2 linked regions of the Homo sapiens genome follow. The protein of the gene in region 1 purifies or fractionates together with the protein of each later gene. This does not show direct contact. Each region holds a gene or a part of one and is shown on either strand. Other genes may lie near its edges. The genes, in order: TICRR and CDK8.

Region 1 (3,828 bases):
AAGATATGATTAATCCATTTTATTTTATTTTTTTCTCAGATTTTAAAACTGAGGAAGAGCTGCTATCATATATACGTGAAAATTACCAAAAGACTGTGGCCACAGGAGAAATCATGTTGTATGCATGTGCTCGAAACATGATCTCAACCGTTAAAATGTTCCTAAAATCAAAAGGCACCAAGGAATTAGAAGTAAGAGGGTCCAGATATTGTTGTTTGTCATGGATGTAGTGGTTGGTTGGTTGGTTGGTGGTGGATTTGGTTAGTGTCTTGGAAAATGTCTGTTATGTCATATGTGATTCAAAAATGGTAAGATAAGTAAGGGAGTAAGTACAGTTCCAGATCTCAGAAGGTGGATATGGTGAACTGGTAAGGCAGAAATCAAAGAGATGGGGTGAGCGGGGATAATTACATATAATTCTCTCCTAATGAAAAGCCTTTCCTCATGTGAGCTATATGTTAGCTGCATGATTAAGCCAGTGGTTTTTAACCCTGGCTATACTTTAGAATCACTTACAGCATTTAAAAAATATATATATGCCAACTAACCGTGGTGGCTCACGCCTGTAATACCAGCACTTTGGGAGGCCAGGGTGGGTGGATCACGAGGTCAGGAGTTTGAGACCAGCCTGGCCAACATGGTGAAACCCCGTCTCTACTAAAAATACAAAAATCAGCTGGATGTGGTGGTAGGTGCCTGTAATCCCAGCTACTCGGGAGGCTGAGGCAGGAGAATCGTTTTAACCTGGGAGGTGGAGGTTGCAGTGAGGCAAGATCGTACCATTGCACTTCAGCCTGGGCAACGGAGCGAGACTCCATCTCCAAAGAATATATATATATGCCTTGCTCTCTCCAGATGAACTGAAACAGATCTCTGGGGTTGGCGCTTTTAAAAAGCCCCCTGGATAATCCTTTTGCACTGGGAGTGTTGCAAACCACTGTTTTAGACCGTGTTGTTGTTTTATTCATGTTCAGTGGCCATCACGGAGCTCCTTCTCTAAAGCAAACAGGAGGATTTGTTTATGATACTTAGGTTTCTTAAGCACTGCTTTATGGAACGTTTCTTTTAAGACACTTTATTTAGGGCAGGCTTGTTTTATCCATGCCCACTAGCTCTCAAAATAACTTTTACCATGTTCTTTTTAAAGATATAAAAGAAGAATATTCACGTCACTTTTTCATTCAAATGAAAGAATAGAGAAGTTTATAAGGGAATATATTTCCCTTTAGTCAACTGTGAAAGAAATTAGAAATAATGACAAGTAACACTATTCTCCTATGTAATAATTTTGTATTTTTAGGTGAACTGCCTGAATCAAGTAAAAAGTAGTCTCTTAAAAACTAGTAAAAGTCTTCGACAGAATCTAGGAAAAAAACTGGATAAGGAAGACAAAGTTAGAGAGTAAGTAACTACCATTTTTTAAAAAATCATCACTCTAAAAGCTGTGAGATTAGCTCGTATCAGTTTAAAATAGATTGTTCGTGACATGGTGGCTCATGCCTGTAATCCTAGTACCTTGGGAAGCCAAAGCAGGAGGATTGCTTGCAGCCAGGAATTTGAGGCCATCCTGGGCAATATAGTGAGACCGTGTCTACCAAAAAATTTTTTTTAATTAGGTGAGCATGGTGGTGTACACCTGTAGCCCTAGCTACTTGGGATGCTGAAGCTGGAGGATTGTTTGAGCCCAGGAGCTCAAGACTACTGTGAGCTATGATCCCAGTACTGCACTCTAGCCTGGGCAACAGAGCAAGACCCTGTCTCAGGAAAAAAAAAAAAAAAAAAAAAAAGATTACCAACTGCATGAAGATGCTTTTGTAGCCAATTCTTTTTTATGTTATAATATGCAGCTTGAATCACCTATTTATCTAATAACTACATCAGTTTTTAGAAAAGGCACTGGCTCTCCTCCTTTTTGGTTGTTGTGTCTTATATAAATAGATCTATGCTTACGGAAGGAGCTTTTTGTTTAGTGACATCCAAAGTAGATATGACCAAGTATTTTTTTCTCTCAAGGTGCCAGCTTCAGGTATTTCTTCGTTTGGAGATGTGTCTGCAATGCCCTTCAATAAATGAAAGTACAGATGATATGGAACAAGTAGTGGAGGAGGCAAGTATATAGTTTCGTGCCATTGAAATACGCCCTAGATGCTTTCAGCTTCCCTGCAGAGGGCATCTATATAGTAACGTTCTAAAATCTCCTTCAGGTGACAGATTTGCTGCGCATGGTGTGTTTAACTGAGGATTCAGCGTACCTAGCAGAGTTTCTGGAGGAAATTTTGAGATTGTAAGTTTGATGGTTACTAACTTAACTTTAAAATTGTTTTGTCAAAACCTATGTATGGTGTTGTCTCTGAATTTTGGAGTTGTAAGGACTACTTTTTAGGCTGGGTGAGGGAGGGAATAGAGAGGGTAAGATGGTAACTGTTCCGTATTCGATCAATCTGTTCCACAGGTATATTGACTCTATCCCAAAGACACTTGGAAATCTTTACAACAGCCTAGGGTTTGTGATTCCTCAGAAGCTGGCTGGTGTCCTTCCTACAGATTTTTTCAGTGATGACTCCATGACACAAGAGAACAAATCACCACTTCTTTCTGTGCCTTTTTTGTCAAGTGCTCGTAGATCAGTGTCAGGCAGCCCTGAATCTGATGAACTGCAGGAACTTCGTACCAGATCAGCCAAGAAGAGAAGGTAAGAGGTCAAAGAATCAAAGGAATTATTTGCACTGTTATAGTTCTGATAAAAGATGTGTTTAAACTACAGTCCAGTCATCTTTGTCCATATAATTTGTTGAACTAATAGCTGCCCTTATGTCTGAATCAGAGAAGCCAACTATTAGAGCTCCTAATAGGAGCATCTGACAATCTTTATATTATCTAGGAAATATATAGTCATGTTTTGCTTAACAACAGGGATACATCCTGAGAAATGCATTGTTAGGCAATTTTTGTTGTACTAACATCAGAGTGTGCCTACCAAAACCTAGATAGTATATATTTTTTCATTTATGTATATTTTTTCATATGGAAAAGCTAATGTTCCAGCATTGTTACTGAATAGCAGTCATTTCCCCTACTTGATCTGTAATGCCAATATCAAGTGTCATTTATTAGGTTTCTATATAGGCTCCATTATAACCTATGGGACCATTGTCATATATGCAGTTCGTCATTGAAGGAAACATTGCATGACTGTATAGTGTTTATTTCCTATTTCACAAAGTCTTCTTTACTGTCCACATGAGGTCTCCAGAAACTAGGCCTTCTATGAAATAAGCTTAGAGTTTCAGCTTTTTAAATTTCCCTTGATGCTTTTCGTTGTTCATAACTGGTTGAATTTGTTACTTTTGAAAATTCTGGGGTGACTTGTTTTATTATAAACCCAGAACAACCTTAAGATAACTGGCTTTTATTTAAATCATATTTTATTTTACTTAGACTCCAGTTCCATTTGAATTTAACTATATATAACCTCTATCTAGTATGTATTAACTATTTCTATTTTTAAAAGGAAAAATGCATTAATAAGACATAAAAGCATTGCTGAGGTTTCACAGAATCTTCGACAAATTGAAATTCCTAAAGTGTCAAAGAGAGCTACGAAAAAAGTAAGTAAACCTTCCAGCTTGAGATGACACAGTAAATAAGAACAAAAAGGCAGTGTCCCTACTTTTAGGAAAATGAACTTTGGAGGATACAGAAATAATATTAAATATTTTTATGAATGTGTATAAAACTATAATCCAAGGAATAAAGAAATATAAACTTGTCAAGAGATTAACAATTTTACTCAAGAGTGTGATAGTTAGAGGTAATGTGAAGAAAAAT
Region 2 (3,828 bases), on another chromosome or scaffold:
CCACTGTTCATAGCAGCATTAATCACAATAACCAGAGGTGAAAACAATCCATGAACATCAACAGATGAATGGATAAACAAAATGTGATATCTATATATATATCTATATAGATATATATATAGATATGCATAGAGTGGAGTATATTTATCCATAAAGAATGAAATAGGCTAAGTGAAATAAGCCTGGCATGAAAGGATACATATTGTATGGTTCCACTTACATGAAATATCTAGATTAGGAAGATTCTTAGGGACAGATAGTAGAGTAGAGGTTACCAGAGCCTTGGGGAAAAAGGCGGTGGGATTATTGTGTAACGCAGGGGTCCCTGCGTCAGCACCGGTACGTTAGGAATTGGGCCGTACAGCAGGAGGTGAGCCACAGGCAAGCGAGCATTACCACCTGAGCTCTGCCTCCTGTCAGATTAGCAGTGGCATTAGATTCTCATAGGAGCTTGAACACTATTGTGAACTGCGCATGTGAAGGATCTAGGTTGCATGCTCCTTATGAGAATCTAATGCCTAATGAATGATCTGAGGTGAAACGGTTTCATCTTGAAACCATCCACCATCTGCCCCTTCCCCCAGCCCCCGCCCTGCACCTCCACCCCATTATCCGTGGAAAATTTGTCTTCCTCAAAAATGGTTTCTGATGCCAAAAAGGTTGGGAACCGCTGGTTTAATGGATTCAGAGTTTCTGTTTGGGATGACAAAAAAAATTCTAAAATGGATAGTGGTGGTGATCGCAGAACATTGTGAATATACTTATAGGATGCCACTGAATTGTACACTTAAAAATGATTAAAATGGTCTTTTTATGTTAGATATATTTTACCACAATCAAAAAATTAAAATAACCAACCAAACAACAACAAAATAGATTTACTCAGATAATACCTGTTCAGTGTCTTTTCCTCACAGATATCTTCTCATTTGTTACTGAAGTATCCGTCTCAGAATTGTGTGGGTGCTTATTAGATGTTTAAGATTGTTTACCTGTGGGTTTGTATTGCCTTTGAATTACAAATGGTGTGGGGTTTTTTACATTATTTTTGTGACAGAAATAGTTAATGCATCTCCTTTGTTTTGCAGTTACTTCGAGAGCTTAAGCATCCAAACGTCATTTCTCTTCAAAAGGTGTTTCTGTCTCATGCTGATAGGAAGGTGTGGCTTCTGTTTGACTATGCTGAACATGACCTCTGGGTAAGGTGAATTGCTGGCAGACATGAGCAAACAGTCAGGGATTGTTAAGAGTAACTAAAAACAGTTAGGTGTTCTGCTTATTATGAGACTTATGTTTTTAAAATAAAAGTAACCTCATAGAGTGTGGTTGGTGGCATGACGAAGGCTAGAGTATTTGACTTTGTATTATTACTTTTCAATATTGTCACTTTGATCTTTTAACAGATACTAAAGAAAACAATAGAATCTAAAGAGTGTTCAACAACTATTCAATATTGCTTCATATAGTTTTTTGATAAAATAAAAAGTAACTAATATATATAAAATTTTGCTCTAAAATAGAAAAGTAGCATATTTCCTTTTATTTCGTTGTATAAAGGGAACATAAAATGAGAAGGTGGTATCCTCATGTAGGAGGACGAATATGCTATCTTTGGAGAGATCTAATAGTTCTACCATTATTTGTCGTATAGCATTAAGCAAGTCTTTTAATGGCTTTGAAGCTGTAGTTTACCCCATCTGTAAAATGTAATACTTTCTTGCCTTTTTTAACAACGTTTTTCTGAGGAACAATCTTGTATTTGAAAAGTTTTATAAATATACAAATGTAGGAAACTGTTATTAATTATTAACTATTCACAATTGAATTTAATATCCTAATTCTTATTTTCAGTGGCAGTAGTTCAATACAGTATAGTCATGCGCCATATAATGTTATTGTCAACTAGGGACTGCATATATGATAGTGGTCTCCTAAGATTATAGTACCATATTGTTACTGTACCTTTTCTATGTTTACATATGTTTAGATAACACACTTATTTACTATTGTGTCACAATTGCCTTCCTTATTCAGTACAGTAACATGTACAGGTTTGTAGCCTAGGAGCAGGAGGCTATAACATATAGCCTAGGTTTGTAGTAGAGTCTATCATCTAGGTTTGTGTAAGTACAGTCTGTGATGTTTACACAACTGCAAAATTGCCTAACGACACATTTTTCAGAATGTATCCCTTCATTAAGTGATGCATGACTGTATTGTACTTACTTGAATTGGGCATAATCTTGCATTGGAGGAATTTTTTGTGGATGAGAGCTCTATTACAAAATAAGATTCGTGTGAAAATAAATTTTAATATCTCTTGGGACTTTTAGTTCTTTGTTTTCTGACCTATGATAAGAATAGTTTTAGGCCAAGTGTAGTGGGTCACACCTGTAGTCCCAACACTTTGGGAGGCCAAGACAGGAAGATCACTTGAGCCAAAGTGTTTGAGACAAGCCTGGGTCACATGGCAAGACCCTGTCTCTGCAAAAAATAAAAAAAATTAGCTGGGCTCAGTGGCACATGCTGTGGTCCCAGCTGTTCATGGGGCTGAAGCTCAGGAAGTCGAGGCTGCAGTGGGTCCTGTTTGCACTGTTGCACTCCAGCCCGGCTAATTTTTGTATTTTTAGTAGAGACAGGGTTTCACCATGTTGGCCAGGCTGGTCTCTTAACTCCTGATGTCAGGTGATCTGCCCACCTCGGCCTCCCAAAGTGCTGAGATTACAGGCCTGAGCCACTGAGCCCAGCCAGTTTATTAGTTTATCTAATGCATTGCAGAAAATGATGCTATATTGAAAAAAATTACTGTAAAATAAGAACTTAATTTTATCTTGTCTGAGTAGCTGAAATACAAACACCAGCCTCAGTATTTTGCAGTTTACTAAGCAGATTATTTTTTAAATTGGTATTTGAGGAACTCTAAGGTAACTATAAAATTTGCTCTTTTATTAAATATAACATTTATATATTTTTTAAAAATCTGAAACGTTACCTTGCAGATAAAACTTTGAGATATATATATAGAAAATCTATAATAGGATAGCCAAAGTAATTTTGAAACATAGTAACAAAATTGACATTCTTATCAATCTGTATAGAGAACATCTGTTAATACAGATTATAGTTTAAGAAACAAGTAAACTAAACATCTAACATTACCTTGTGTTAATTCATTAAGAATTACTATACTCCTGTGAACTGCTTTTTAAATGATATTTAATAATGTCTTTAAACATTGTATTGATTTGCATACTAATCTATATTTACTAAATTAGCATGGCTATGCTTTTTATTATGTATACATGAAATTTTCTCTCTTTTATGAAACTCTTTCCAAAGTTCATGCTGGTTATTAATTTCTTCTTTTTTTTTAAATCTTTGGTTCTTCTGTTCTTCTATTTTAAAAGAAATCTAATCAGATCAACCCTGTTAAATCAGCGTGGCCAGTATTAAATTGAACACTCACTATGCTGAGCCTCATAAGAAATAAAGTCATATAATTTAAACTTAAGGCATTTTCCAGGCTGGTTTATAAACAAGATTTGTGATAAACCACAGTAGAGCATAGAAGATAGTATAATATTTCACTCAATGTGATTTCTAGCTGCTAGTTTGTAATATTTAATTTTACATGTAGGTACAATGATTATACTTCAGCAAATTTTATTGTGGGTAATATTGTACAGTGCATATAACTAGTTCATTAGCTTTATCATCATCTTAATAATATTTAAGCCAAATAAATATTTTTAATGTTCATTTTCATAAAAAACAAATGATAATTTAGCCTACTAAAACCCACTCCTTTATCTATTTTAATTGGAATGT

What was found.
Region 2: the proteins of TICRR (region 1) and CDK8 purify together in Homo sapiens (affinity purification with western blotting; one study listed by BioGRID). This does not show direct contact.

What each region holds. Positions count from the first base shown.
Region 1 is NC_000015.10:89,599,285-89,603,112, forward strand, and holds part of TICRR (treslin), read left to right. Parts: intron 1-39; coding exon 40-191; intron 192-1,300; coding exon 1,301-1,401; intron 1,402-2,013; coding exon 2,014-2,107; intron 2,108-2,204; coding exon 2,205-2,284; intron 2,285-2,452; coding exon 2,453-2,692; intron 2,693-3,511; coding exon 3,512-3,608; intron 3,609-3,828.
Region 2 is NC_000013.11:26,347,984-26,351,811, forward strand, and holds part of CDK8 (cyclin-dependent kinase 8), read left to right. Parts: intron 1-1,088; coding exon 1,089-1,199; intron 1,200-3,828.